Linked DNA regions of Homo sapiens. The protein of the gene in region 5 purifies or fractionates together with the protein of the main gene of each other region. This does not show direct contact. Each region holds a gene or a part of one and is shown on either strand. Other genes may lie near its edges.

Region 1 (4,202 bases), on a different chromosome or scaffold from region 5:
ATGACAAAAAGGATTACTATTAAGCTTTCTGGCTTTGATAATAGTATTGTTGTTATTTTTAAAAATTTCTTATCTTTTAGATATTGATATTTTAAAAGATGAAATCATACAAATGCCTGAGATTTGCTTCAAAATAACCTGGAAGGGTGGTCATATAGGGAGACAGATAACAAAAACCGAGCAAATAATGGGAATCACTGACGCAGGATGATGAGTACCTCGAGTTCGTTATTCTGTTCTCTCTACTTTAGAATATGCTTGCAAATTTCCATAATTAAAATTTATTTTGGCTGGGCGCAGTGGCTTACGCCTACAATCCCAGCACTTTGGGAGCTGAGGCAGGCGTATCACCTGAGGTCAGGAGTTCGAGGCCAGCCTGGCCAACATGGTGAAACCCCGTCTCTACTAAAAATACAAAAATTAGCCGGGCATGGTGGTGCACGCCTGTAGTCCCAGCTACTCGGGAGGCTGAGACAGGAGAATCACTTGAACCTGGGAAGTGGAGGTTGCAGTGAGCCGAGATCACGCCACTGCACTGCAGCCTGGCCAACAAAGTGAGACTCTGTCTCAAAAAAAAAAAATTATTTTAAAAGGCAACTATATATAATCTTAAAAGATTTATATTCCTTTCTTATATTTTAGAGATACATATTGAAATATTTTACCTGAGATTTGTTCTAAATAAGTTGAAAAAGAAGAGGAGTGGAGGGCACAGATGAGAATATTGGCCATGAAGCTAGGCAATGGATTAATGGGGTTTTCTTATACTATTTTTTTCTACTTCTATGTATGTTTGAAATTTTCCATAATAAATAGTTTTAAAAAGCTACAGGCCTGGATCCAATGACTCATGCCTGTAATCCCAGCACTTTCAGAGGGCAAGGCAGGAGGATTACTGGAGGACAGGAGTTTGAGACAGCCTAAGCAACATAGTGAGACCCCATCTCTGCAAAGAATATAATTAAAAAATTAGGCTGGGCGTGGTGGCTCATACCTATAATCCCAGCACTTTGGGAGGCCAAGGCAAGCAGATCACCTGAGGTCAGGAGATTGAGACCAGCCTGATCAACATGGAGAAACCCCGTCCCTACTAAAAATACAAAATTAGCCAGGCATGGTGGCGCATGCCTGTAATCCCAGCTACTCAGCAGGCTGAGGCAGGAGAATCGCTTGAACCTAGGAGATGGAGGTTGTGGTGAGCCAAGATTGTGCCATTGCACTCCAGCTTGGGCAACAAGACCAAAATTCCATCTCAAAAAAAAAAAAAAAATTAGCCAGGTGTGGTGGTGCACACCTGTAGTCCTAGCTACTCAGGTGGCTGAAGCAGGAGATCACGTGGGCCAGGAGTTGGAGATTATAGTGAGCTATGTTTGTGCCACTGCACTCCAGCCTGGGTGACAGAGCCAGACCCTGCAGACACATTTTTGTAGAGACAGAGTTTTGCCGTGTTGTCCAGGCGGGTCTCAAACTCCTGGGCTTAAGCAATCTGCCCACCTTGGCCTCTCAAAGTGCTGGGATTATAGGTGTGAACAACCACACCTGACCAAAAAAAAAAAAAAATTTTTTTTAAGCTAAAAAAAAACTGAGATTAGAGCTGCTACTCACCTCAGGTAAGCCAGAGCTTGCAGTTTTAGTCTAGCCAAGTTAATTGTCTACTAAAACAAAAACAACACTCTTTGCAGGAATATAATGAAATCCAGAGTGTCTACAACAATGTACAAGATACAATCCAGCATTTTTTGACATATGAACAAACAAGAAAATGTGACCCATTCTAAAGGGTAAAGGTGATCAACACAAGCCAATCCTCAGATGAGCTAGATATTGAAACTGTCAGACAAAGACTTTAAAGCAGCCATTATAACTCAAATGAGGAAAAGGGAAATACACTTGAAATGAATTAAAAGAATAAAACGTAGATGAAGAGTACTCATTCTGCACAACTTCTGTAACTTATGAGTCAAACTATTTCAAAATAAAAAGTTATAATAAGAGAGAAAGAAATAGAAATCCTACAACTAAAAAATGTATAACATAATTTTATCTAAAATAAAAAATTCACTGGATGGGCTTAACATCAGAATGGAGATGATAAAGAGTCAGTGAACTTGCAGATCAACAGAATTATCCAATCCAAAGAAGAAAAAATAAGTGTGAAAAAATAAACCTGTGGGACAATACCATGAAGCCTAATATACATGTAATTCATTCCAGCAAGATATATGGACCAAAATTCCCAAACTTGGTGAAAGTCACACATTTACAGATGTAAGAAACTAGGCAAACCAAACACAGGATAAATACAAAGAAAAATACACTTAGGCATATCACAGTCAAATTGCTAAAAACCAAAGAAAGAAAGAAATCCTGAAAGCAGCCAGAGAAAAGCAACATACTCCTTACAGGGGGGAACAATCAGAATTTGTGGAGACTTCTCATTAGAACACTATGAAGACCAGAAGACGGTGGACAATACCTGTAACTGTAAACAAAAATTTTTATATCCAGCAAAAATATCCTTCCAGAATGAAGATAAAACAAAGTCATTTCACATAAAGAAAACTCCAGACCTGTACAATAAGTAATGCTAAAGGAAAATTTTCAGGCTGAAAGAATATTATACCAGAGGGAAACATGTGTCTATCTTCAAAATGGAATGAAGAATTTTGGAAATGATATATATCCAGGTAAATACAATTAAAGTAATTATTCTGTCGTAGACCTAAATGAACATCCATAATAGAGTCCCCCCGTTCCGTACACATCCAGAAGTTGAATGATCCATCCGATGTAAAACCTCAAAATGAGACAAATAGCTGTATTTCAAATATTCAAAACCTGTCATGTGTAACTCCACAAGGCAGCATTAATGTTAACAGGAAGTTATGGGGCATCAAATTTCAGCTCAATATAAGGAAGACTCTTTCTAAAAACTAGAGCTGTTCAACAACAGAACAGGCTTCCTAGCAAGGTAATGAGCTTCCCATCATTGAATGCATTCAAATAGAAGCTTGATGATTATTTGTGTGGGATGCTGGAGTAGATTCATCTTTTAGGACACTAATATCCTAACATCTTGATTTATTTACCCCTCGGTTGCCTAATACAAAGCTATATTACACCAAACAACTCCAACCACAATCCCAAAAATTTCTCTTTTGCCTTTTCTATCAATGAGTTTACAGTCACACCTCTTACTTCTACAAGCTCTATTTCATAATTATCTTTTACCTCTAATCAAAAAAAATATATATAACACTATTCTCTTAAATTTATATAGCTTTTTACATGTTATAGAAACAATTCCAAATATAATACTTTAGTTCATTTGAAACTTTCCAAATTCTCTAGGCTAGTAAGAGATTTATAAAACTGCTCAGTGTCATGACATTCCTTGAAGCATGCAGCGCAATAGCAGAAATTATAAATCAATTGCTCTGGATTGTTGACTATTTGGGAGTTGAGCTGACATTCACTGACTTTATTGTCTTCTGCCACTAAATGACACATGTGTATTTAATATGACTCTTAAATTTTAAGTTAAATAAATGTGAAGAAAAATACATACAATATATTTTTAAAATATTAATATTTAAATATTAAAATGTAGTGAAGGAGCTTCTATTGCACTCAAAAAGGTACATTAAAAGTTACCTGTTGCAGTATCTGACTTTGTATCAGAAGTGGGTGGTATCTCACAAAGCTCTGCATTTCTGGACTGAGAGTTTTCACAAGTGTTGTTAGGTTCAAATGACGCAGATGGAGTAGACACTGAACTTTCTGACTGACTGCCATTTGCTACTGATGTTTCACTTTTTAGCAAATGCATCTAGGCAGAAAATAAATTGGATTTTAATTAATAGATAAGAATCTAAACTTACCATGGCAGTAGAGACCAAAATACAGGTTGATTTATACTCTATAAAAAGAGAAATACGAAATGCTCATAAATAGATGAATCCAAAATGTATAATCCTAAGTATGATATAATCACATTATGGAATTTACCTGCAAGCTGGCAAGACCATAAAAACATTTGTTAAAGCACACTATTGATTTTCCCTCAAATTAGAATTCAAAGAAAAAAGTTACAAACTTCTACCAGCCATTTGTCCAAAGTAGACAGAAATGATTAATTATTGAGTATAACGTCCTTAAAATATATTAAGCAATATATAGTTAGAGCCTTAATATGACAGCAA
Region 2 (4,202 bases), on a different chromosome or scaffold from region 5:
TCACTCACAGCACCTTCACAATACATCACAAGAGAATCAGGACTTGGAGGGACTGCACAGGGTCAGACATACAAGACACTTCAGTGGCCTGTGCCCTGCTGGCTGTGGTACTCTAGAAACAGTCCTCTCAATTCAGAATTCTCTCTCCCCTCTGGGTACTGCTCTTTTTTGGGGGCCATCTTCATTACTAATCACTCTTTCAATATTTTTTTTATTTTTTTAATTTAATTTTTTTTTTTTGAGACAGAGTCTCACTCCATTGCCCAGGCTGGAGTGCAGTGGCGCCATCTTGGCTCACTGCAACCTCCGCCTCCCAGGTTCACACTATTCTCCTGCCTCAGCCTCCTGAATAGCTGGGACCACAGGCACGTGCCACCACACCCGGCTAATTTTTTGCATTTTTAGTAGAGACGGAGTTTCACTGTATTAGCCAGGACGGTCTCAATCTCCTGACCTCATGACCCACCTGCCTCAGCCTCCCAAAGTGCTGGGATTATAGATATGAGCCACCACGCCCGGCCTCCTTTTATTTTTTTGAGATGGAGTCTTGCTCTGTCACCCAGGCTGAAGTGCTGTGGCTCGACCTTGGCTCACTGCAACCTCTGCCTCCCGGGTTCAAGTGCTTCTTCTACCTCAGCCTCCCGAGTAGCTGGGATTACAGGCACCCTCCACCACACCTGGCTAATTTTTGTAGAGAAGGGGTTTCACCATGTTGGCCAGGCTGGTCTTGAACTCCTGACTTCAGGTGATCCACCTGCCTTGGCCTCCCAAAGTGCTGGGATGACAGGCATCAGCCATCGTGACCGGCCTACATTTTTTTAAAAAGGTAATAACAATCATGAATGGAGTTGTTTTGGGTTTTATTTTCATAATTGTCCTCAGAAAGATAAGGTAAATGTGTGTACTGGCAGTTTTCCCATTTCTGAGCATGCTTTGTTGAGGAATAATAAAAGAGAATGACTCTGCCATAAAGACTATCTGCAGAAAAACACAGTTCTTATTAATTCAAGTTTCCTTTTGCTTAAAGAGCCAGAACTCAGTAATCTCCACAACTTCAGAATAAACCACCCAGGACTCATCAACATCATTTTATCCTGAAACCATATGGATTTTTCTTTATTCTTCCCCTTTAAATGCTGTTAAACCAAAACCAGAAGTAATACTCAGACCTCAGAACTACTATCTGGCTTGTAGTTAAAAACATGGATTTGGGTCAGGCGTGGTAGTTTACACCCATAATCCTAGCACTTTGGGAGGCTGAGGTGGGAGGACTGCTTCAGCCCAGGAGTTCAACACCAGCCTAGGCAACATGATGACATCCTGTCTCTCCAAAAAAAAAAAGAAAGAGAAAATATATATGGATTTGTTCCTTCTTTGAGAAACTGAAATTATATCTTGATTTTTTTTGGGGGGGGGACAATTTAGCATTTTTTTTCTAACTGTAGAAGTTCAAATGAAATATTATCTCTCTTTTTGAAATTTTTTTATTTTTTGTGGAGAGGAATCTCGCTATGTTGCCCAGGCTGGTCTTAAGCTCCTGGTCTCCCACCTCAGCCTCCTGAAGTGCTGGGATCACAGGAGTGAGCCACTGTGCTCGGCTGCAACATATATTATAGTGTGGAAATTGGCAACTATTCTCTACTCAGTTATTAGCAAACAACATATATGCCAACCCCGATGCTAAATTAAAACATGGACTATGATTAGTGATTGCTGTCTAGTTTATTTCTTATAAACTATATGGCCTTCTAATATTAAAACAATCTGTACACATTAAGGACACTGAGTAAACATTCATCATGCTTTTTGTAATGAATGTTTTACTTATTAATCATTCATCCTTATCTTCCTTCCCTACCAAATCAGAGTTTCTACCTGATTTTGACTTCCCCCTCTCCGCCTTCTAGGATGTGCTTTCAGCACAGTCTTTGGTGGCTGCTGTGCATTCTGACCCCCCTCTCTCCTCCCTCACACTGACTGTAAGTAGAAGAGCAGCAAAATGTCGCCGTATTTACCAGGAGGCAGGGGCTGTGTGACTGGGCCAACCTCAGCCCTCCTTACCTTGCACAGCCATGCTGGATGACCTGGCTCCTGACGCACACCTGGGCCATGGCTGCCCCACTCTCAAGCTTTCTCCATCTATGAGTCCCTGCAGCTTCACTACCCTGGCTGGCCACCCAACTCTAACTGCTTCTTCAGCCTTCTTCATGAGCTTTTGCTCCTCTTCCTACCTCCTTGACCAATCGGCACCCACCTCTGCCTGCAAGCTCTCATCATGCCTATGACTGCACAGATCACAGGGGCAGGGCTCATTTGGGAATCGTTTGTCCATCTCTCTTATTAGGTCATAAACTCCTGAGGGCAAGAACTGTGTCCTGTTCATGACTCAACAGTAGACAGTCAATTAATGCAATCAACCTCACTGATTATATGAACTCAAAAAGTTACGCTAGACTCTGCCTTCTCTGTTCGTCCCTGTGTCACTGATTGAGTCTACTCCACTGACTGACTATCGCGCCCAGGCAGAAAACCCTCAGTTCCTCCTTTCTAGCGGACAATATTCATCCCAAGTGCAAAGAATTTCAGTAAGAACATTTAACATAGCCTGAATCAGACCTATGAATACTTTTTATTCCAAACCTTCAGGAAAGTTAAACTTCCTGCCTCCTGAAGCCACCCTGCTTCCTGAAGCCACCCATCTCATCTGTGATCTGGTCCAAGGGCCACGCCTGTCTTAGGCTGGAACGTGCCCACTTGTCCAGTACTGGCTGGCAGCATACAAGGATACTGGCCCCTCTGAGGCCTTCTTTCCCCACACTGACATGTCCTCACATCTACACCACTTGAGGTCATGTGGCGTTAGGACGGACCATCGTGACCCCCATCTAAGAGGTCTGATGTGCAGCATGGAAGGGATCTGTTCCAGAGCCCTGTGTCTGATGATGTGGCTGCGGGACTGAGACCCCAAGGGCAGTGTTCTAATACAGCTCTAAGAACTGAGTATTTAATGATCCTGGTAAAGTCAAGATGAACCTGAAAGGTGCACCGTACGTTGCATGTTCCCATCTCCCCACTCCCATTGTCTGCAGCTGTGCTGTGGCCTCTTCATCCTGTCATCCTGTTTTTTTCCAGGCTTTCAAACGCAGGCTAAGATCCTACCTATTCTTTGAGGTCATTTCCAAGGGCTACCTTCCACATAAAATTTTCTCTCCAGTCCTTGCAAAAGAATGAAATTCTTCACGGCAACCCTGTAACACAGAACACATCCTGTGTGTCTGCCCTCCTATCACAGTGTGGGCTCACTTTCCCTGTGTGCTGCAGGCCCCATAAGCCCGCCTTCTGGACCATGCCGGGCTCTGTGTCCCTGCAATAAGCAGCTGAGGGGCTCCCACGCTGTGGACAGGGAGTGGATACCCATGGAACACAGTCATCAGGCCCCAGACAGCCAGGATTTGCTGTTAAGACAAAAGCCTAAATACCTGACTGACCGATTTCAAAAGTGCCACCTCTCTCGCTTGCTTGTGGGATGGTGGGGACTGAGCTGACACAGCTGGTCATCCAGCTGCCTACGCATTCTCTGTGCTCTTGTCCCCACTGAGTCCAAACACAAGGTTATCTTTAAAAAATAAAACAATACCAGGAATCCTTCACCTCTACATTTTATTGTAATTTACCTCAGAAGTTAAACAACCCTAGTGCTTCTTCATGACTTTGAAGGTGAAGGTATTCAGATACTGCATAAAAGACAGCAATCGCACTTGCTGTAAGAACACCAACACTGATGCTTTTAGAACAAAAGGTTTATCATCAAGTGGTGGCACCATTCTTACCAGATTATCGAGCATCCGCATGAGGGCTTCAAATTCCTGCTCACCAATCTGCCACTTGGGAGGCGATCCAGTGCCTTCCCCTACCGGAGACCCTGGGGAACGGGACTTGGCTTTGTACTTCTCAGGATTCAGCAGGACTAAGTTGTCTGGTCCTCCTGCACTGGCCAGAGTTCGAACCTTTTCCAAAACACACACAGCATGGCTTGAGTTCCTTACTGAGATCAAGAGGGTCAGATGACTTGAATAAAAATGTAGGTTTCAAAAGAAACCAAATCTCTAGAGTGTAAGAATAAAAAATGTAGAATGGATAGTGACAGACTGATCACAAAGTTACTTTCAGAAGTATTTCTTTAGCATGACAAAAATATTGGG
Region 3 (4,202 bases), on a different chromosome or scaffold from region 5:
GGTGGACGAGGTGCCACCCTACACCCTGGTCCTCGGAAGTGTGAGGTGGCTTATTCCCAAGGGGAATAAGGCTACAAAAGAAGAGAGGGTGGTGGTGATATATGTCGGGGAAGGGGGTGGGGATGGTTGGAGGTGGCCCAGGGGCCAACCTTAGCTGGGGGACCCTCTTAGCTGAGGGTCTGTGCTTGCTGCTGCTCCAGCGATTCAGGGCAGGGCCAGGACTCAGAGACAATGCAAGAGCTTGGGATGCGGGAGATGTGGGCAAGGGCCACTGATGAATCTGCAGCTGAACGCTGCATTTTGTGCAGCCAATTATCCCGCAAACATTTCTTAACCACCTATTTGGCTAGAGGCTGTGGAAATGACAGGGGGTCCTCAGCCAGTGGGCCAGTGGCAAACACCGACATATTTAGGCACAATGCATGGTGGCCAGTGCTATGGCACAGTATTCCAGGCACCCTTAGGAGTCTAACTCTTAAATAGCAACATGGCCCCAAGCCTCAATTTACCCTTATGGTAGAGGGGTAGGGAAAGAGATGTGGGCACAGTATAGGTTTGTCACCATCCTAAAGTCCTTTTTAAAGAGGTTTTTCGCCAGGCATGATGGCTCATGCCTGTAATCCTAGCACTGGGAGGCTGAGGTGGGCAGATCACTCAAGGTTAGGCGTTCAAGACCAGCCTGGCCAACATGGTGAGACCCTATTTCTACAGAAATTAGCTGGGTGTGGTGGCGCATGCCTGTAGTCCCAGCTACTCAGGAGGCTGAGGCAGGAGGATGTCTTGAATCTGGGAGGCAGAGGTTGCAGCAAGCCACCTGCACTCCACCCTTGGCAACACAGCGAGATTCCATCTCAGAACAAAAAGAAGTAAAATAAAAAAATATATAAAGGGGATTTGGTGAGTTTTTCCAATTCCCAGGAGGGAATCAGCACTGAAAGGGCTGAGTTCTATTCTGGTATTTACAGCTGACACGTATGCGCACATGCACACACATACATGCACGCACACACACACACACGCACACACACGTGTGCACACCCACCTCCTGGAAAGCTATTTATTGAGAGTCACTGGGAACTTGGGCGAATGAACCCACCTCCCTGGCCTGCAATCCCCCATTTGAAACAAGCAGGTTGTAGTAGATGATTTCCAGAAGGCTCCCCAGCTCTAGAATTCTGTGTCCTATGATTTTCTGGCTCATTTAGAAGTGGTGTGGAAAGTACCCTTTGCCAACCGAATTCCACATTGCACAGCCTGCAGGCTGCCGACTCGAAGCAGTCATATGGCAAATGTTACTGCAAATATGAAGAGGCTCCTTTAAGGGATCCTCTGTGTCAATTTTCTTGAAGGCTTTTCTTATAGAGAATGCCCCCGTCATTTGGCCTGTGCAGGGTAGGAGTCACCATCCCAGATCTGCTACATCACTTGATTTCTTAACAGCCCCATAGAGCAGACAGGATACATGATAAAGAGAGGCCCATCCAACTTAGCCCATGTTCCTGGGTCCGGGACAGGAAACCCCACCAGCTGAGCTCCCTGCCCTGCTTCATGGCCAGTGGGTGCAAATAGGAAATGAGCCCAGAGCTGGGTAAAGAGCTCCTGGCTGAGGTCCAGTGAAAGTGTCCAGGCAGGCTCAGGCTGGTGGGTAGGGATGGGCAGGGCAATGCCATTCTCTTTCTCTGATTATGTAGGAATGACTTCCATTTCAGCTAGAGCAAAGCTTGCATTCAGCAGCCCTGAAGAGGGCCTCTGCCTCAAAGGGTGTGAAGAAGCAGCACTTCCTGGAATAGGGGTCATCTACGTCCCCTCCTGAGAAGTCCAGTGAACTGGAGACACGATTCCTCCCACTTCCCTTAAGAGTGAAGGGCTCTGAGCTGGGTGCGGTGGCTCATGCCTGTGATCCCAGCACTTTGGGAGGCTGAGGCGGGCGGATCATGAGGTCAGGAGATCGAGACCTTCCTGGCTAACATGGTGAATCCCCGTCCCTACTAAAAAATACAGAAAATTAGCCGGGCGTGGAGGTGGGCGCCTGTAGTCCTAGCTATTCGGGAGGCTGAGGCAGGAGAATGGCGTGAACCCGGGAGGTGGAGCTTGTAGTGAGCTGAGATCACGCCACTGCAGTCCAGCCTGGGTGACAGAACGAGACTCCATCTCAAAAAAAAAAAAAACAGTGAAGGGCTCTGAGCTAAGTGCTGAGCCAGCTCCACAGCAGCCACCAGCATCACAGGGGTCACCAGCCCCACAGAAGCCTTAACCTTCAGCAGTTGCTCCCACCAGCTCTAGCTGCTGGAGAACAAGCCCACTGGCCAGACATCCCTTCCCAGGATGCAAACTCCCCTTCCAGGGAGCCTAAAGCCAGGGCTGAAGCCGGTTCCCCTCAGTTCTACAGTCCAGAGTATCCCAAGCGACCGCTCAGCGCTGGGTGCTGGGCTGGGCCCTGGAGGTGGTGATAAGTATGTTGTTGGCCCCTCGAGGGCCTCACCGCATGGTGGAGGAGACACACAGATCATGGAACACACTTTGGTTCTCCCTAGGAAACCAGGGAAGGCATCTCAGAGATGATGCCTGAGGGTGGCTAGGAGTGGCTCTTCCCCTCCCTCCCTGCAAGGGGGGGAATTCTAACCACAGGGAGTCTAGTCCCCTTCCCCTCTCAGCTTTCCACAGGGCAGTGGTGTTAAAACCCCAGGCAGCACCCTCCTCTCCTTTCAAACATGGGTTCCTGAGGAAAACCAGATGGGGGACAGCCTCCATGCCTCTTCCCCCACCTTCTCTAGGCCTGGGGGACACCCTGAGGACCCTCCTGGGCAGGCCACGCTCCCCTCCTCAGCCCTTCTCTGGACGACCACACTCCAAAGCTCTGGCCACACTGACACCAGGTGCTTTTGGGTCTGCCCTTGAATGGCTGGGCTCCTAACCCCGCCATGTCCAGCTCGCTCCTGCCTCAGATCCTGTCCCAAGCTGCACCATGCTGGGAACACCCACATTCCCCCACCCCAGCCCTGGGCACCTTGTTTTTTTCCTTGAGTCAGGGTCTCCCTCTGTTGCCCAGGCTGGAGAGCAGTGGCGTGATCTTGGCTCACTGCAACCTCTGTCTCCCACGTTCAAGCAATTCTCCTACCTCAGTCTCCTGAGTAGCTGGGACTACAGGCGTGTGCCACTACCATGCCCAGCTAATTTTTTTGTCTTTTTAGTACAGTCTTACTAGGTTGCCCAGGCTGGTCTTGAACTCCTAGGCTCAAGTGATCCTCCCACCTTGGCCTCTCAAATTTGCTGGGATTCCAGGCGTGAGCAGCCACACCCTGCCACCGTGGAATTTTCTCTCCAGTTCTGAGAGCTAATCTCCCCAAAGCCTCAATGACTCCATCTCAAGAACCACCATCACAGACTCCCCGACCCTAATCTGCATCTCCCCTACACACTACAATTCATAGAGCCTCAGCCACATTAGGAAACACTGACCCTTTTAATTTTAAAATCCCTATGTGAAAACCCCACCTCCTTCAGGAAGCTTTCTCCAGACCTCCAGACCACCCCTTCCAAATCTTATACTCTTTTCCATATGCCTCCCTCTCCCACAGAGTGGCACTGGGGCTTCAGTTTTTATTATCATATATCCACTGATACCCACAAACATTGGCAGGATCCCAATGCCTGGGGTCCCTTAAACCCACCAGGTGCTCAATATATATGCTTACTAATCATCATAGCTATTTTTTGAGTGTTGATCCTGAGTTGGGCGTAAAGCCAAGCCCATGATATATATACTCGCTCATCTTCATAGCAACCCACAAGGTAGGGCTGTTATTACTTTATAGATGAAGAAACTGAGGTTCAGGGAGGTCCACTATTTTGTCCATGGTCATGCACATCTCTCTGACCCAAAGTCTGAGTGTTTCCACCCCACCAAGCTGCCTTTCTGTTGCCCAGAATTCATCCATTGAACATCAGATTGAGAGTACTGAATCAGCTTGTCCTTTCAGTAGCTGAGGGAACACGGAACCCCAGATATCTTATCATGGTGGAACTAGAGGTCCCTTTGGTTCTTTTATTCTATCTCACAAATAACGAAACGGAGGCACGGAGATGTGACTTACCATTGTGGTTCTGCCAGATGGTTATCAAACCAAAAAGCACTGAAAGGGGGTCTGATGAATTGTCCAACCCTTAAGGTGAATGCTTTCTTTGCTGTAGGCTGCATAATC
Region 4 (4,202 bases), on a different chromosome or scaffold from region 5:
TATGATGCATACATGATACATACAAGTGTACATTCATACATATGTGTGTAAACAGTGGTGATAAAGATACTTGTCCTTGGACAGAATGGTTTTGGTAAATGTGCTGGGCTGTCTGCTTTGGCAGAATGTCTTGCTAATCCTAATTAAGGTAGTTTAAGCCTCCTATATATTTGTTTTCAGGTATTTGATTTCAGTCAAATTGTGAGAAGAGATTATCTGTAAACTTTAACATTGAGACATTTAGGCTGGGAGTGATGGCTTACGCCTGTAATTCCAGCACTTTCAGAGGCCAAGGCAGAAGGATTGCTTGAGCCAGGAGTTCAAGACCAACCTGGGCAACACAGCAAGACCCTGTCTCAAAAAAAAAAATTAATTAAAATTTTAAAACTACAATATTGACACATTTAAAATTTCTTAAATGTCTTAGGTCCTATTTCTTAGGGAGAAATTTGTTTTTTATCTCATTGGTGTTTTGGCAAAGTAAAAATTTTACTGTGACCTTCAGTCAATTTTAGGCCATAAAATAACCTATAACTTTCCTTGCAGTATTTCAAAATAACAATGTGTTGATATTTATTACTGTTTTCCCCTCTGCCTTCACATCTGTTTTATAATTGCACAATGGATAGGATGATACCATTGAAGGCTTGTTTTTGGACTAATTCTTTGCATGTATCATCCTTCATTTTCCCAGTACACGAAGGAGAGTGATTTCAGCATTAGAAGTTGGGATTTGTATAGTTCAAGGATTTTAGTATTTTTAAGGCTTTTTCATCATAGTTTTTAATTCTAGTCACCACACATCTCTAGCCCTAGCATTCTGTAACCAAGGAAACGCCCTACTTTTAGCATGGCACAGTACAAGTGTACCTTTTAAAGAAATATTCCAGGTTGAATACTCTGTGTATTCTGAGATAATATTCAAAAGAAGATCAGTGATCCTAGTGATTCAAAAAAGCCAAATTTTAACACATTAAAATTGCCTGAAAGTCTTAAGTATTTATTTTTAAAAGTCTTTATTTTTCCTAAATGATAAGCTGAAGCTGCCATTGCCATATATGGATGCATATACAGCTTAGGGAAACCAATGACTAAAATAAAATCCAACTGAAAAAATAAAGTTTAAATTTAAAAATTTCTGGCCAGGTACAGTGGCTCATGCCTGTAATCCTAGCACTTTGGGAGGCCAAGGCAGGAAGATTGCTTGAGGCCATGAGTTCAAGACCAGCCTAGGCAACATAGTGAGACCCTGTCTCTACAAAAAAAGTTTAAAAATTAGCCAGGCATGGTGGCATGCACTTTTAGTCCCAGCTACTCAGGAGGCTGAGATAGGAGGATTGCTTGAGCCCAGGAGTTCAAGGATGCAGTGAGCTATGATCATACCACTGCGCTCCAGCCTGGGCAACGGAGCGAGACACTGTCTCTTAAACAAAAAATCTGTGTTGCAAATGTATTTTTCAGGTGAGTTGACTAGCATTTATCTTAAGGAGTATCAACTACACTCAAAGCATTTAGATAGGCCAGTTTAGGTTAAGATACAAAGATGAGTAAGGTGTATCTATTGGGGGAACCAGCCCCCAATATTTCAATGTATGTTCTATTTTCCCTAAATGTCGGCCCATCTGAGAAATAGAGAAAGAGTACAAAAAGAGGAATTCTACAGCTGGGCCTCCAGGGGTGACATCACATATCGGTAGGTCCGTGATGTCCCCTGAGCCACAAAACCAGGAAGTTTTTATTAGGGATTTCAAAAGGGGAGGGAGTGTACAGGGAGTAGGTCACAAAGATCACGTGCTTTACAGGGCAATAAAGATCACAAGGCAAGGGCAAAGCAAAGATCACAAGGCAAAGGGCAAAATTAGAATTACTGATGAGGGTCTATGTTTGGCTGTGCACGTATTATCTTGATAAACACCTTAAACAACAGAAAACAGCGTTCGAGAGCAGAGAACCGGTCTGACCTCAAACTTACCAGGGCGGGATCTTTTCCGCACCCTAATAAGCCTGAGGGTACTGCAGGAGACCAGGGCGTATTTCAGTCCTTATCTCAACCGCATAAGACAGATACTCCCAGAGCGGCCATTTATAGACCTCCCCCCAGGAATGCAATTCCTTCCCCAGGGTATTACTATTTTTTTTTTTATTATACTTTAAGTTTTAGGGTACATGTACACATTGTGCAGGTTAGTTACATATGTATACATGTGCCATGCTGGTGCGCTGCACCCACTAACTCGTCATCTAGCATTAGGTATATCTCCCAATGCTATCCCTCCCCGCTCCCCCCACCCCACCACAGTCCCCAGAGTGTGATATTCCCCTTCCAGTGTCCATGTGATCTCATCGTTCAATTCCCACCTATGAGTGAGAATATGCAGTGTTTGGTTTTTGTTCTTGCGATAGTTTACTGAGAATGATGATTTCCAATTTCATCCATGTCACTACAAAGGACATGAACTCATCATTTTTTATGGCTGCATAGTATTCCATGGTGTATATGTGCCACATTTTCTTAATCCAGTCTATCATTGTTGGACATTTGGGTTGGTTCCAAGTCTTTGCTATTGTGAATAATGCCGCAATAAACATACATGTGCATGTGTCTTTATAGCAGCATGATTTATAGTCATTTGGGTATATACCCAGTAATGGGATGGCTGGGTCAAATGGAATTTCTAGTTCTAGATCCCTGAGGAATCGCCACACTGACTTCCACAATGGTGGAACTAGTTTACAGTCCCACCAACAGTGTAAAAGTGTTCCTATTTCTCCACATCCTCTCCAGCACCTGTTGTTTCCTGACTTTTTAATGATTGCCATTCTAACTGGTGTGAGATGGTATCTCATGTGGTTTTGATTTGCATTTCTCTGATGGCCAGTGATGATGAGCATTTTTTCATGTGTTTTTTGGCTGCATAAATGTCTTCTTTTGAGAAGTGTGTGTTCATGTCCTTCGCCCACTTTTTGATGGGGTTGTTTTTTTCTTGTAAATTTGTTTGAGTTCATTGTAGATTCTGGATATTAGCCCTTTGTCAGATGAGTAGGTTGCGAAAATTTTCTCCCATTTTGTAGGTTGCCTGTTCACTCTGATGGTAGTTTCTTTTGCTGTGCAGAAGCTCTTTAGTTTAATTAGATCCCATTTGTCAATTTTGTCTTTTGTTGCCATTGCTTTTGGTGTTTTGGACATGAAGTCCTTGCCCATGCCTATGTCCTGAATGGTAATGCCTAGGTTTTCTTCTAGGGTTTTTATGGTTTTAGGTCTAACATTTAAATCTTTAATCCATCTTGAATTGATTTTTGTCTAAGGTGTAAGGAAGGGATCCAGTTTCAGCTTTCTACATATGGCTAGCCAGTTTTCCCAGCACCATTTATTAAGTAGGGAATCCTTTCCCCATTGCTTGTTTTTCTCAGGTTTGTCAAAGATCAGATAGTTGTAGATATGCGGCATTATTTCTGAGGGCTCTGTTCTGTTCCAATGATCTATATCTCTGTTTTGGTACCAGTACCATGCTGTTTTGGTTACTGTAGCCTTGTAGTATAGTTTGAAGTCAGGTAGTGTGATGCCTCCAGCTTTGTTCTTTTGGCTTAGGATTGACTTGGCGATGCGGGCTCTTTCTTGGTTCCATATGAACTTTAAAGTAGTTTTTTCCAATTCTGTGAAGAAAGTCATTGGTAGCTTTATGGGGATGGCATTGAATCTGTAAATTACCTTGGGTAGTATGGCCATTTTCACGATATTGATTCTTCCTACCCATGAGCATGGAATGTTCTTCCATTTGTTTGTATCCTCTTTTATTTCCTTGAGCAGTGGTTTGTAGTTCTCCTTGAAGAGGTCCTTCACATCCCTTGTAAGTTGGATTCCTAGGTATTTTATTCTCTTTGAAGCAATTGTGAATAGGAATTCACTCATGATTTGGCTCTCTGTTTGTCTGTTGTTGGTGTATAAGAATGCTTGTGATTTTTGTACATTGATTTTGTATTCCCCAGGGTATTATTAATATTCCTTGCTGAGAAAAGAATTCAGTGATATCTCTCCTACTTGCACATCCGTTTATAGGCTCTCTGCAAGAAGAAGAATATGGCTCTATTCTGCCTGACCCTGCAGGCAGTCAGACCTTTGGTTGTCTTCTCTTGTTCTGTAAAATCACTGTTATTCTGTTTGTTTTCAAGGTGCACTGATTTCATATTGTTCAAACACCCAT
Region 5 (4,202 bases):
ATTAAGTGCCAAATGATTCAACCTCAATTAGCAGCACACATTCTTCCATGCAGAGCTGAGCCCTGCCTTCCTCCCCGGGGTCGGGGAGGCAGTCATGACGGAGCAACAGGAATGGGCTCAGCTCTGTTCTAGAAACTGGCGCGATGGCAGGGAGTGAGGCAGATAAGGGCCCCGTCCTCAGGGAGCTTCCATCCAAGAGGAGGAGTGGCAGCAAAGGAGCAGCAAGATGAAGTCGGGCTGTCGGGGGGCCTATGAAGACAGCCAAGCAGGGTGGTGGGATGGAGAGGGCAGGTTGGAGACGGGGGGCTGCTGTAGACAGGGGGTCAAGGAGGCGATGTTTAAGCAGGGAACTGAATGACAGGAAGCAGGGAGGGTTCTGGGTGTCATAAAGGGGAGTGAAGAGGTTCGGGGGAGGCAGAGATCATCAAGGCAGTCTGTGTACTTGGAGTGAAGTGGGTAAGGGGTGTGGTAAATGAGGCTGGGGAGACGGGGGCTGTTGTTCACGGTTTGCGCATTAAGATGAGTTTTAAGTGTGAAGGGAGCCACAGGAGAGATTTAGGCCAGGTTAACTTTCAGTTGTTTTTTGGGAGGCTCTTTTTATTTTATTTTATTTTTTGAGACAGGGTCTCACTTTGTTGCCCAGGCTGGAGTGCAGTAGCACAATCACAGCTCAATGCAGCCGCACCCTCCTAGGCTCAAGCGATCCTCCCACCTCAGTCTCCCGAGTCGCTGGGACTACAGGCATGCACCACCATGCCCGGCTAATTTTTGTATTTTTTGTAGAGATGGGGTTTCTGCTCCATGTTGCCCAGGCTGGTCTCGAACTCATGGGCTCAAGCGATCTGCCTGCCTCAGCCTCCCAAAGTGCTGGGATTACAGGCATGAGCCACGGCGCCCAGCCTAACTTTCAGTTTTAAAAGCTCACCAGGGCTTCCGTCGAGCTTGGTTCTAACGAGGTGAGGTGTAAGGGGGCGCCCCTCTATGCCACAGGCACACGAGGGCACTGTCTTCCTGCCATGTTTCTGTATCCCCAACACCTAGCACGGGGCCATCCACAGAGCAGACTCAGGCTCCCCATCTGCGAAACGGGGGATTTGATGCAAAGAACTCACAGGGCCCTGCCGGCTCCAATATAGGGTCTATACAACAGAGCAGGCGGCAAGAGCCAATCACGGTGCAGCCCCACGAGTCCTGGCAACTGATTGGCTGCTCAGGAAGGTGTCAGTTCCGAAGGTTCAGGTCCATCCCTTTGCTGTTAACCCCTCATGGCTGGCAGCATGGGGAGCCAGCTCTCAGGCTTATCTGATCTTGTATCTGCAGCAGGGGCCTCCCCAACCCCCAGCAAACCTACCATCCTCAGCCCAGAAGCTCTCTCCACCTTAATCTCAGGTGCCAGAGATTTGGGGCTGCCTGTTTTTCCCAACCCACCTTCTCTCCCTCTTCCCCCTCCAATGTCAAGGGCCCAGTGTGACTATTTTACCCTCCCTTCACAGGGGCACAGGCATTGGCAGTAGCAGGATCCCGCTCTGGGGTCTCGTCTGGGGCTGAGAAACTTTGTGCCTGAAGCCATATGAGGGTGTGAGGCAGGATTCACCACAGAACTTGCAAGACCCAGTGCAAAATGGAAGTACAGGGCCCATGCTCAAAAATGATTAAGAATTTCAAGATGTAGACATCAGAGTATTAAACAAGGTGCAGGACCCTTCTGAGCATGGGGCCCTGTGCAATTGGATAGGTGGCCACACGCATAGAGCTGGCCCTACTGGGATACCTTCACCCAATCCTTCGGAGAGACTTGGGAAGGTAGATCTGGTCGGGCCTATTTCTCCAGCTTCTGTGATGTTGTCCAGGACAACAAAGTCCACTAGGGGCCACCAGGGATCAGGGACCTCCAGGCTGCTGAGAGCACCTGGCCATAACCTGGCCTCAGCAGCCTCAGCCATCCATCTCAACGTACAAGGGAGGTGCCTGGGGAAGGAGCTTGGGACTTCCAAGCCTCTACCTCTTATAGAAAAGGAGATTGAGGCTCAGAGAGGGGAAGTGATTGGTCCAAGGTCCTTCAGCAAGTGGGTCCTTCAACTCAGCCAAGATGCACAAAGGCGGGACAAGGTCTCAAGCCAGCATCCAGAGACCCAGGGACAGAGGCAGTGACAACACACTGCTGGTGACCATGGCCTTGAGCAGGAGCTGCCTCACCTAATTCTCCCTCCCTGCTCAGGTTTGCAGCCAGCCCTCCCTTGGCACTTAGAGGCACCTGATAAACGTTTGATAGTTGATGGTGAGTGGGCAGGAATCCTTGTTCCCATTTTGTATATAAGGACAGGACCAGAGAGGGGCACTCACCAGCATCAGGACCGAGCTGGGGCAAAAGCGGCTTTCTAGGCTCTCTGCTAGGGTTTCCCTGCCCTCTCCTGGCTGCCTGCCTTCCTCTAGCCTGGGCCAGGGCATCTAAGGCAGCTGAGCAGAGTGTCCCGGGGAGAGACAGCAGCAGAGAGAGCCCAGCCCACCCAAGTCTGGGGTTGGGGGTTGGGTAGTGAGGAATCCTCTGGGGTGGGTTGGAAGCATCTCGGCTCCAGGCTCTCTTCTCCCTTCTGCCTGCCCTCCTCTTCCTAGGAGAGCCTGATCCCTGCCCCTGAAAGGGGGGTTCATTAAGATCAAGAAATGAGGGCCCCCGCGAGGTTCTGCATGGACCTTGGCTCTGAAGCTGGACAGGACCGTGTAAGCCTGGGAGGCAAGCCTCTTAGTGGCTGTGAGGCTCAGCTTCCCCATGGGTGTCCTGTGCATGCTAATAGCCATCTCCCAGGGGGATCAAATGAGATCACACATGTGTGACATCTTGCGCAGGGGCCAGCATGTGGCAGGCCTTTGCTAGATGGTGGCTATGATCGATCTTCCTGTGGTCCTTCCCACGATGTCCAAGTCAGGTCAACTCAAAACACATGTGTTGTGTGTAAGGTAATGCATGTGTCATACCATGTAGAAGACACTGTGCTGAGATAATGGGAGACCCACAAAGAGCTGGCCATGGCTCCCTGCCCTCCACAGGCTCATAGTCATGGGAGAGATCAGATAAAGTCACTCTGGGGAGTGGAGACCCCTTCGTGGTAGATCAGAAAGGCTTCCCGGAGGAGGGGGCACTGGAGCTGCGCCTGGAGGCTTTAGACAGGTGGATGTGGGGAGAAAAAGCACTATGGGGAGAGAGAACAGCTTGAGCAAAGGCCCTGGGGTAGAAATGTGCAGGGAGCTTGTGGCGAACAGTAGGGTCCGGAGGAGGCAGAGTGTGAAGCAAAGTAATGGGTAATAAGGCCAGGTGGGAGGTTGAGTGAAGGCCATCAGGAGCCTTGAGTGCCATGCTAGGGAGTCGGGGAAATGTCCTAGGAGTGATGGGGACCCCTGAGGGCTGGCCAGGGAGGGGCTGGTGCCTCCCCAGTCATCCTTCCCTCCTGAGTCTGACACCAACACGCTCCCTCCACGTCCGATGACAGCCCTGCCTCCGCATCCTGCAATAGAGCGCAGGGCCTCCCAGGCCTGCAGACAGCTCTGTTCCACCCCTCAGCATGCCTTGTCCCCAGGTGTCCCTGTTCCTTGGAGTCAGGCTCTCTGGATCACCTCCTCCAGCAGCCTGCTTCCGCAGAAGCTCCTCTCCCAGCTCCTGCTCTTGCCTGAGCCAGCCTTCTCCTCCACGTCCCTTTGCTTGGAGGCCCAGCCTAAAGGCCACCCCTCCTCCCTTCTACCCCTTCCTCCATACCCCATCCCGGGTTCTGGGAGCCCCCAGCACCTCTCAGCGCCAGTGCTGCCTTCTTGGCTGGACTGTCAGGCAGCTCCACTGGGCTGGAGGCTGTGGGTGCCCACACAGGGTCTGGCCCACAGGAAGTGCCTGAAAGGGGGGTCGACTTGGTGACGGTCTCTCCCCTCCTCCCACCACCCCACATATCCCCAGGAACTCACACGGTGGGGATGTACTCTCCGGGAAAGGCGTTGGTGGTGTAGCTGATGAGAAGGCAGGTCTTGCCCACGGCCCTGAAAGACAGGAAGTGCAAGAGGGCGGCGGTCATGGGCTCTGCCGGAGACGTGGGGAGGTTTCTGCCTGGTCCTCTGCAAAGACCTCAGCATCCACCCAGCCTAGCCCTCTGGGCCTCCGTCTCCCCATGTGAGATGCCCCCTGTCTGTGTTCTCACACCCGAGAGCCTGCAAGTCATGTG
Region 6 (4,202 bases), on a different chromosome or scaffold from region 5:
GAAATATACATAAACACAAAATGAAACAAAACAGAGTCCCCAAACAACTCACCATCCACGTGATAACTACTGTTGACTTTTTTTTTTTTTTTTTTTTAACTCATAGAGACGGGGTCTCAATGTGTTGCCCAGGCTGGTCTCGAACTCCTTTGGTCAAGCGATCCTCCAGCCTTGGTCTCCCAAAGTGCTAGGATTACAGGTGTGAGCCACCGCGCCCTACTGTTAACATTTTGAGGCCAGGTGCAGTAGCTTGAGACCAGCCTCCGCAACGTGGCAAAAGCCTATCTCTACAAAAAATACAAAGAATTAGCCAGGCATTATGGTGCGTGGTAGCAGTCTCAGCCACTCGGGAGGCTAAGGTGGGAGGTTGAGGTTGCAGTGAGCTGTGTTCGTGTCACTGCACTCCAGCCTGGGCGACAGAGTGAGACCCTGTCTCAAAATACAAACAGGCTGGGCGCTCATGCCTGTAATCCCAGCACTTTGGGAGGCTGAAGTGGGTGGATCACCTGAAGTCTGGAACTCAAGACCAGCCTGGCCAACATGGCGAAAACTCACCTCTACTAAAATACAAAAATTAGCTGGGCGTGGTGGCGGGTGCCTGTAATTCCAGCCACCTGGGAGGCTGAGGCAAGAGAATCGCTTGAACCCGGGAGGCAGAGGTTGCAGTGAGTCGAAATTGCACCACTGCACTTCAGCCTAGGTAACAGAGCGAGACTCTGTCTCAAAACGAACCAACCAACCACAACATTTTGGTATACATACTTCTGGTTTCTTTTCAATGTATATGAATGATTATGTATAGATACAGTTTACTTTAACAAAAGATGCCCAATGAAAAATGAAAATTTTGTTGATCGAGTTGCTGGACTATTTTGTTATCTGCTTTCTAACTTAATAACTCCTCCAAACAAATAAGGAGAACAAAATAAAAACTAAATTCTGTTATGAAATGAAAAGACCACAATATAGGAAGAAACGGAAGAATGGTAAATGCCTTTGGTTTGCGCCTCCTTGGCCTTGTTAAGTGACTACAGTGAGAGTTGTGGTTGAAAGGTCAATTGACTGGACCTAGAGTCCTAAAAAGGCTCAGGAATTGGAAACACCTCAGGAGGGGAATGAGAAGCTGAAAAGACGAGGATCTCTAGGAAGTCTTCCAAGTAATCAGATCCCCAGGTTCCCACCCAGCAGGCAGGCAACTATCTCTCCTCAACCACTATAGGAGTCACGAGTCTTAGCCTCTGGCGAGGTCACTTAAATTTCCTGAAGTAGACAACTCTGCTGGCTTTATAAGAGAATGTCCATGTTTTTAGGAAAAACAAGGATTTAAGGATAAAGAAGCATGAATTATGTAACTTATTCTCAAATAGTCCAGGGGAAAAAAATACCTGTGTGTGTGCATTCAGAGAGAATAATAAATTACACAGGACGATACATTAACAATTACGGAGTCCAGGTAAAGAATATACTACTCTTGTGACTTTTAGGTAAACAGGAAATTATTTTTAAATGAGTAGTTTAAAAGTGTTATTTATTCAAGAGTGTATTGTCTCAGGTAGGGAAATGTGGTAAACAATCCTTTGCTATTTTATTTGTACTATTTACTTAGCAGAGTTACCCTTCTATTGTAGTTTATTGCAGAATCAATCAAATGCAACTCAGGACTGGTTGAATTTTGATGGATTCCAGGTTGCAAGAGTTTTACTTTATACAGACCAAAAATCAAATACTAGTTATAATCTGCAACAAAAACTAGTTGACAAGTCCTTTAATTGTGGGTATTTTTATGCCTAAATTCACAAATATGGATTATTTTAAACAAAGGTTTATTTTGGTTTAAGTCCTCTTTGCGGGGAAGGGCAGAGGGTCACAGTTAACATTTGTTGAGCACCTGCTATGTTCCAAGTGCTTTGAATATATCATTTCATTTAATTCTTACAACAGTCCTACAAACTAAGAAGTGGTATCCTTGTTTCACAAAACTGAGTCGTAGAAAAGTAATTTGCCCAAGGTCACACAACTAATAAATAAGCTGGTAGTCCGAGTTGTTTAAAACCCCATGTATAGTGCCTTCTACATAGTAGATACTTGAGTATTTATTAAATGAATTGAACTTGAATTACACACTGATTTTTATTTTTTAGCCAGAGAACTGTTGAGCTACTGCAGTAGGCAAAGCCCAAGAGGCAGGTTTGAACCTAAATCCAGATTTCAGTAATTCCATGTTTAGAGAACCAGGGAATTTTCTTTGATTGAACCCCCGGGTTCAAGCAATTCTCCTGCCTCAGCCTCCTGAGTAGCTGGGATTACAGGTGCCTGCCACCATGTCAGGCTAATTTTTGTATTTTTAGTAGATGGGTTTTTGCCATGCTGGTTGGCCAGGCTGGTCTCATACTTCTGACCTCAGGTGATCCACCCACCTTGGCCTCCCAAACAAAGTGCTAGGATTACAGGCATGAGCCACCGCGCCTGGCGAGAACCAGGGAATTTTCTAAACCTTCACAGAAAAGTCCAGTGATAACCTTTGACAAGACTAGTTAATGGGAAATAATGGTTTATAAATTGGGGGTGTGGGGGGATGGGCCAGGCATGGTGGCTCATGCCTGGGAAGCCTAGGCAGAATGATTACTTGAGTCCAGGAGTTCAAGACCAACCTGGGCAATACAGCGAGACCCCGTCTCTCCAAAAAGTTTTTAAAAATTAGCCTCCCTCTCCTCTCCTCTCCCGTCTCCACGTCCTGATAAATCGACGCCATTGTTTTTCCTTCATAACATGAACTAGGAATGTCTGCTTATCAATATAGGTTACTTAGCCTGGTTTTTCATCTTTAGCCCAACAGTTCATTAATTGGAACTTTAAAAATCAAAGAATCCAGGCCAGGCATGGTAGCTCATGCCTGTAATCCCAGCACTTTGGGAGGCTGAGGTGGGACGACTGCTTGAGCCCAGAAGTTCGAGATCAACCTGGGCAACATAGCAAGACCTCATCTCTACTAAAAATTAAAGAATGAACTGGGCATGATGGTGCACATCTGCAATCTCACATACTGGGACCTCATCTCTACTAAAAATTAAAGAATGAACTGGGCATGATGGTGCACATCTGCAATCTCACATACTGGGGAGGCTGAGGTGGAAGGATTGCTTAAGCCCAGGAGTTTGAGATTGCAGTGAGCCATGATTATTTTACTGCACTCCATCCTGGGCAACAGAGGAACTGAACTTGTCAGAAAGAAAAGAAAGGGAAGGGGAAGAAAGGAAGGAATGAAGGAAGGGAAGGAAAGAAAAAGAGAAGAAAGAGCAGGGCGCAGTGGCTCACGCCTGTAATCCCAACACTTTGGGAGGCCCAGGCGGGCGGATCACGAGGTCAGGAGATCGAGACCATCCTGGCTAACACGGTGAAACCCCGTCTCTACTAAAAATACAAAAAATTAGCCCGGCGCGGTGGTGGGCGTCTGTAGTCCCAGCTACTCGGGAGGCTGAGGCAGGAGAATGGTGCGAATCCGGGAGGCGGAGCTTGCAGTGAGCCGAGATCGCGCCACTGCACTCCAGCCTGGGCGACATAGCGAGACTCCGCCTCAAAAAAAAAAAAAAAAAAAAAAAAGAAAAAGAGAGGAAGGGAAGAAACAACTAAAATCTCTAAGGGTGTTTTTTGTGTTCTGTTTTTTTCTAGTACATATACATTTACTTTTTTTTTGTTGTTGTTGGTTTTTTGTGGGGGTTTTTTTGGGGTTTTTTTTTGGAGGGGAAAGGCGGGGCAGGGTTTTGCACTGTCACCCAGGCTGCAGTGCACTTATAGGATCATAGCTCACTGCAGCCTTGACCTCCCAGGCTCAAGTGATCCTTCTGCCTTAGCCTCCCAAGTAGCTGGAACTATAGGCACTGCCACTGTGCCTGGCTAATTTTTATATTTTGTAGAGACAGGGGTCTCACTGTGTTACTAGGGCTGGTCTCAAACTCTAGGGCTCAAGTGATCCTCCTGCTTTAGCCTACGTTTACTTTATACCTAGACAATTGCTGGAGATTTGGTAAGTTTTCCAGAAGGGTCCTTCTGGAAGGTTGAAGCCTGGCTTTTGGGATATTGGAGTTAAATGAGAGAATGGTAAGCAGAGTTAAGAGGGGAAACTTCTTTTTAATTTCCACATTTTCCGTCCAGGACCTCATCCTTCCTTTACTCTTGCAACCTGGAATCCATCAAAATTCAAC
Region 7 (4,202 bases), on a different chromosome or scaffold from region 5:
AAATAAGGAAACATCCTATGTGTTCATCAGTGGATGAAAGGATAAAAGAAATTATGGTATATGTGATATAGATATTTAAGACTCAATAATATATATGACTGAATATTTTATTATATATATTTATTATATATTTGTTTATTTATAATATTTATTTTATATATAGTCTTAAGAAAGTGGGCCTGCCATTTGCAGCAATACATGTGAACCCAGAAGACATTATGCTAAGTGAGATAAACCAGACACACAAAAAAATAGCATATGATGTCACTTACATGTGGAAAGTAAACAAAGAATAAAACACAAAATGAAAGGTGGTTGAAAGGGATGGGGAATGGAAAGATGAAAGTCAAATGGTACAAAGTTTTAGTTATGTGGGATAAATAAGTGTAGAGATCCAGTGTACAGCATGAGGACTATAGTTGATAATATTGTATTATATCTGGGAAATTTGCTAAGACTAAAGATTTTCGGTACTTTGCCACCAAGAAGTAACTATATGAGATAATAGATATGTTAATTTGCTTAACTGTAGAAATCATTTCACTATATATATGTGTATCAAAACATGTTGCCATATACTTTAAATATGTACAATTTTTAAAAAGAATTCTCACATCCGCAAAATGGGGCTTAAGGAAGAAGAAAAAAGCATAGCTATCTCTTTATGAGATTTACAAAATATGGAAGGACACATGACATGAAAATCATATTTTGTTATTTCTGTAATATCCATAGAACTATTTTATGATTCTCTATTTCCTTTTATATCTGTACCTTGCACCTAAGGACATTTCTTCATTATCAGTTTATTTTTTCCTCCTCCCTCAATCAGCATGACTTTGTTCGACGAGACCGGCCACTACGTGTCCTCATTGACCTCATACAGAGGACAAAAGATGCAGTTCGTGAGCTAGATAACCTACAGTACCGAAAAATGAAAAAAATACTTTTCCAAGAGACACGGAATGGACCCTTGAATGAGTCACAGGAGGATGAGGAAGTAGGTTCAATTTATTTTAGCAGGCACTTATAGAATGCCCACTATGTGAAAAAGTTCTAGACTGGGCACTATGAAAAACTTTTGAAGATAAAAATTAATTGATGCTGTCCGCCTTAAGAAACATGAAGGGTTGTACAAGAGACATTCATAAAATAACACTTATATAAGGCAAAATATGAAAAGTGCTACAGAGGTGTAACCCCATTGCAGGGGTCCATCATGGGGAGAAAATAAGTCTGCTGGTGGGATTAGTGAAGGTTTCCTGGAGGACATGATGTGGGTAGTTTCTGACAAATGGGCATAGGGTGTTCTAGACTCAGAAAGGTGTTGTGCTTTAGGAAGATTATCCTAGCAACAGAGTGTAACATGGATTTGAATGGGCAACATCCTGGCTAATAGTCCATGCAAGAGGTAATAAGGTCAGTGTCGATGCAAATGGGGAAAAGGGAGCACTTTAGAGAAACATCGTAGAGGTAGATTTCATAATCCATGGCTTCTCATTGACAGTGACAGATAAGGAGGAGTTTAAGGTGACTCTGAGCATTGGAGCCTGGGTGGCTAGGAGTATGTCAATACCAAGAACAGAGAAAAAGAACCAGGGAGAAAGAGTAGATTTAGGATGATTTCAGTTTCGTGCCTTTTGAGTTTAAGGTCCTGGCATTATAAACTCTTGCCAGTATACAGATAGAAGTTTTCAGTTAGAGAATCCTTGATGACCTTAGTAAAAGCAGTTTTACAGGACTAGGTAGAATGAATAGTAGATTACTGGAGTTGTATAATTCATGGGAGTTGATAAGAGGGAGACAGGAAAAAATAATTATGTTAAGATTCAGAAATTGGGTTAAGAAGGAAAAGTAAGAGTGGGCAGCATGTAGAGAGATCCATAAATATAAGGCAGGCTTCTTCATCTTTAAATGCAGTAGAGATGGAGCCAGGGCAGAGTCAGAGGCACCGAAGATAGAAGAAAGGGATATAGTTAAAGAGGCAGGATTTCAGAACGTAGACATAACAAGAACAGGAGTATTTTAGCTTTTTAACAGAAAATAAAATAAACATAAAAGTATTTTATCAATAATTTTAAAAATGAAGCTCGGAAAGTTGCATTGAACTATAAAATTTCTTGATTGCATATATAGAAATGATCCCCTTTAATTGGGAAAATAAGTCTGTTAAAAATAATGTATTATCTTCCATTTTATATTACCCAGTAATTTTTTATATTGCCATGGCTAAGTAACAGTTTATTAAAGTTATATGTGTACCATATGGTTTTTTGAGAACAAGGTTTATTTGTAGCTAAATGGATTTAATTTTATTATTCAATCTTATATCAAAAGATATCCCACTGTGATGGATAAATTATATGTTCTGATTATTTTACCACTTTTCAAATAGTAGTCTTTGGGCCAGTAATGATGAATACCAGTATTATTTAACAGATATATATAATAAGATTACAGAGATAAGCATGATAGAATCGCTTGAGGGAGGCAGACTTTAATTACCTGTCCAGGAAAGTAGAATTAATATTTCTGCTTAGATATGAAGTTACTCAATAATGACTTGCAGAGGGAGCATATTGCTTGTCAAATATCTGAAAACTCTTTCCACTCTACTTTTTCAAGTGACCACTGCTGTATTTGAAGATATCCTAGAGCTCACCTGTTTAGTGGCCAGCAGTCTTCCTCTAGCTCCTTGATGTTCCAGAAGGTCCCTTACAAACCTGGCTTGATTTTGCTTACTGAATAGCAACACGATAATATGATAGTGTGTATGACAGGGGAAAGCCCTGGGATGGCAGCATTTGGAGCCTTATGACCCACGTCCAGAATGGCCCCTGGGGAAGGCATAGGAAGCAAATATGAGATGTATGAAAATGGTGGAGGAGTAGTGGAGCCAGTACATAAAAAGTTTGTCTTTGCAGATTGGCAGAAAAGCAACTTGACACTGCAAAATTGAGTGTGCTTGACACTTTTGTCAATGGATTGACTCTTTATCTTCAGTCTTTTTTTCTAACCTCAGTGCCCCATTTTTACAGGACAGTGAACATGGAACCAGCCTGAACAGGGAAATGGACAGCCTGGGCAGCAACCATTCCATTCCAAGCATGTCCGTGAGCACAGGCAGCCAGAGCAGCAGTGTGAACAGCATGCAGGAAGTCATGGACGAGAGCAGTTCCGAACTTGTCATGATGCACGATGACGAAAGCACAATCAATTCCAGCTCCTCCGTCGTGCATAAGAAAGTAGGTTTCTTGGTACCCTCCACAGAGGTGAGCTTTGTCAATCATAGCGAATCCAGTTCAAGTCACTTAGCTTCCAGATGTTTCAGTTACCTTTTTGCAACTGCAGTGTGGTACTAAACCTGGCATGTGACAGTTTTCTTACAGTCAAAAAGTAACAAAGGACTACACAGGCTACATCTGTGCCTATTTCTTCATCTCCCTCTCTCATTACTCTGATGTCCATCATCATCAATAAATAAGTTGAAGAATTTGATAAGTCCTTCTCTAAACCAATAATCTTAATACTGTAGACCTTCAAGTCTTCCTGAGTGTACCTGTTGGTTGTGCCCTTTTAGAAGTATGCTCTTTCAAAAGTATGTTTCTTGGCTGGGCGTGGTGGCTCACATCTGTAATCCCAGCCCTTTGGGAGGCCTAGGCGGGTGGATCACTTGAGGTCAGGAGTTTGAGACCAGCCTGGCCAACATGGCGAAACCCCGTCTTTACTAAAAATACAAAAAATAGCCGGGCCTGGTGACATATGCCTGTAATCCCAGCTACTCGAGAGGCTGAGGCAGGAGAATTGCTTGAACCCAGGAGGCAGAGGTTGTAGTGAGCCGAGATCGCGCCATTGCACTCCAGCCTGGGCAACAGAGTGAGACTCAAAAAAAAAAAAAAAAAAAAAGAAGAAGAAGAAAGAAAGAAACTTGCCTCGGGTAAAAGGAGGACTTACTCTAGCAGGGAGTAAGAAAAGCCTACCTGATGAGGTGACATTTAAGCAGAAATTTCAAAAACAAATAGAAGCTAGCCAGCTGGGGTAAGAGATGGGGATGAGTCAGAAAGCAACAAGTACAAGAGCACTGAGACAGAGAGAGCTTTGTATGTTCAAGGAAAAGGGGAAGGCCATAGAAGCTATGGCTGGTGTGCTATGTGGACAGTGCCTCAGGACCAGAGAGACAGCAAAGGACCCAGATTATCAGG

Evidence for each region.
Region 1: the proteins of RAC2 (region 5) and UBXN4 purify together in Homo sapiens (affinity purification with mass spectrometry, with the first as the bait; one study listed by BioGRID). This does not show direct contact.
Region 2: the proteins of RAC2 (region 5) and ADD1 purify together in Homo sapiens (affinity purification with mass spectrometry, with the first as the bait; one large-scale study listed by BioGRID). This does not show direct contact.
Region 3: the proteins of RAC2 (region 5) and PODXL purify together in Homo sapiens (affinity purification with mass spectrometry, with the first as the bait; one study listed by BioGRID). This does not show direct contact.
Region 4: the proteins of RAC2 (region 5) and RAP1GDS1 purify together in Homo sapiens (affinity purification with mass spectrometry; 2 studies listed by BioGRID and IntAct, with this or other methods). This does not show direct contact.
Region 6: the proteins of RAC2 (region 5) and SLC30A5 purify together in Homo sapiens (affinity purification with mass spectrometry, with the first as the bait; one study listed by BioGRID). This does not show direct contact.
Region 7: the proteins of RAC2 (region 5) and TAOK3 purify together in Homo sapiens (affinity purification with mass spectrometry, with the first as the bait; one study listed by BioGRID). This does not show direct contact.

Annotation. Positions count from the first base shown.
Region 1 is NC_000002.12:135,755,144-135,759,345, reverse strand, and holds part of UBXN4 (UBX domain-containing protein 4), read right to left. Parts: intron 3,830-4,202; coding exon 3,655-3,829; intron 1-3,654. UniProt on the Homo sapiens protein: Involved in endoplasmic reticulum-associated protein degradation (ERAD). Acts as a platform to recruit both UBQLN1 and VCP to the ER during ERAD.
Region 2 is NC_000004.12:2,899,064-2,903,265, reverse strand, and holds part of ADD1 (alpha-adducin), read right to left. Parts: intron 4,008-4,202; coding exon 3,831-4,007; intron 1-3,830. UniProt on the Homo sapiens protein: Membrane-cytoskeleton-associated protein that promotes the assembly of the spectrin-actin network. Binds to calmodulin.
Region 3 is NC_000007.14:131,549,783-131,553,984, forward strand, and holds part of PODXL (podocalyxin isoform 1 precursor), read right to left. Parts: intron 1-4,202. UniProt on the Homo sapiens protein: Involved in the regulation of both adhesion and cell morphology and cancer progression. Functions as an anti-adhesive molecule that maintains an open filtration pathway between neighboring foot processes in the podocyte by charge repulsion.
Region 4 is NC_000004.12:98,411,091-98,415,292, forward strand, and holds part of RAP1GDS1 (rap1 GTPase-GDP dissociation stimulator 1), read left to right. Parts: intron 1-4,202. UniProt on the Homo sapiens protein: Acts as a GEF (guanine nucleotide exchange factor) for the Rho family of small GTP-binding proteins (G proteins) that stimulates the dissociation of GDP to enable subsequent binding of GTP.
Region 5 is NC_000022.11:37,237,639-37,241,840, forward strand, and holds part of RAC2 (ras-related C3 botulinum toxin substrate 2), read right to left. Parts: intron 4,021-4,202; coding exon 3,949-4,020; intron 1-3,948. UniProt on the Homo sapiens protein: Plasma membrane-associated small GTPase which cycles between an active GTP-bound and inactive GDP-bound state.
Region 6 is NC_000005.10:69,096,508-69,100,709, reverse strand, and holds part of SLC30A5 (proton-coupled zinc antiporter SLC30A5), read right to left. Parts: intron 1-4,202. UniProt on the Homo sapiens protein: Together with SLC30A6 forms a functional proton-coupled zinc ion antiporter mediating zinc entry into the lumen of organelles along the secretory pathway.
Region 7 is NC_000012.12:118,198,094-118,202,295, reverse strand, and holds part of TAOK3 (serine/threonine-protein kinase TAO3), read left to right. Parts: intron 1-832; coding exon 833-1,000; intron 1,001-3,038; coding exon 3,039-3,245; coding exon of another isoform or gene 3,246-3,272; intron 3,273-4,202. UniProt on the Homo sapiens protein: Serine/threonine-protein kinase that acts as a regulator of the p38/MAPK14 stress-activated MAPK cascade and of the MAPK8/JNK cascade.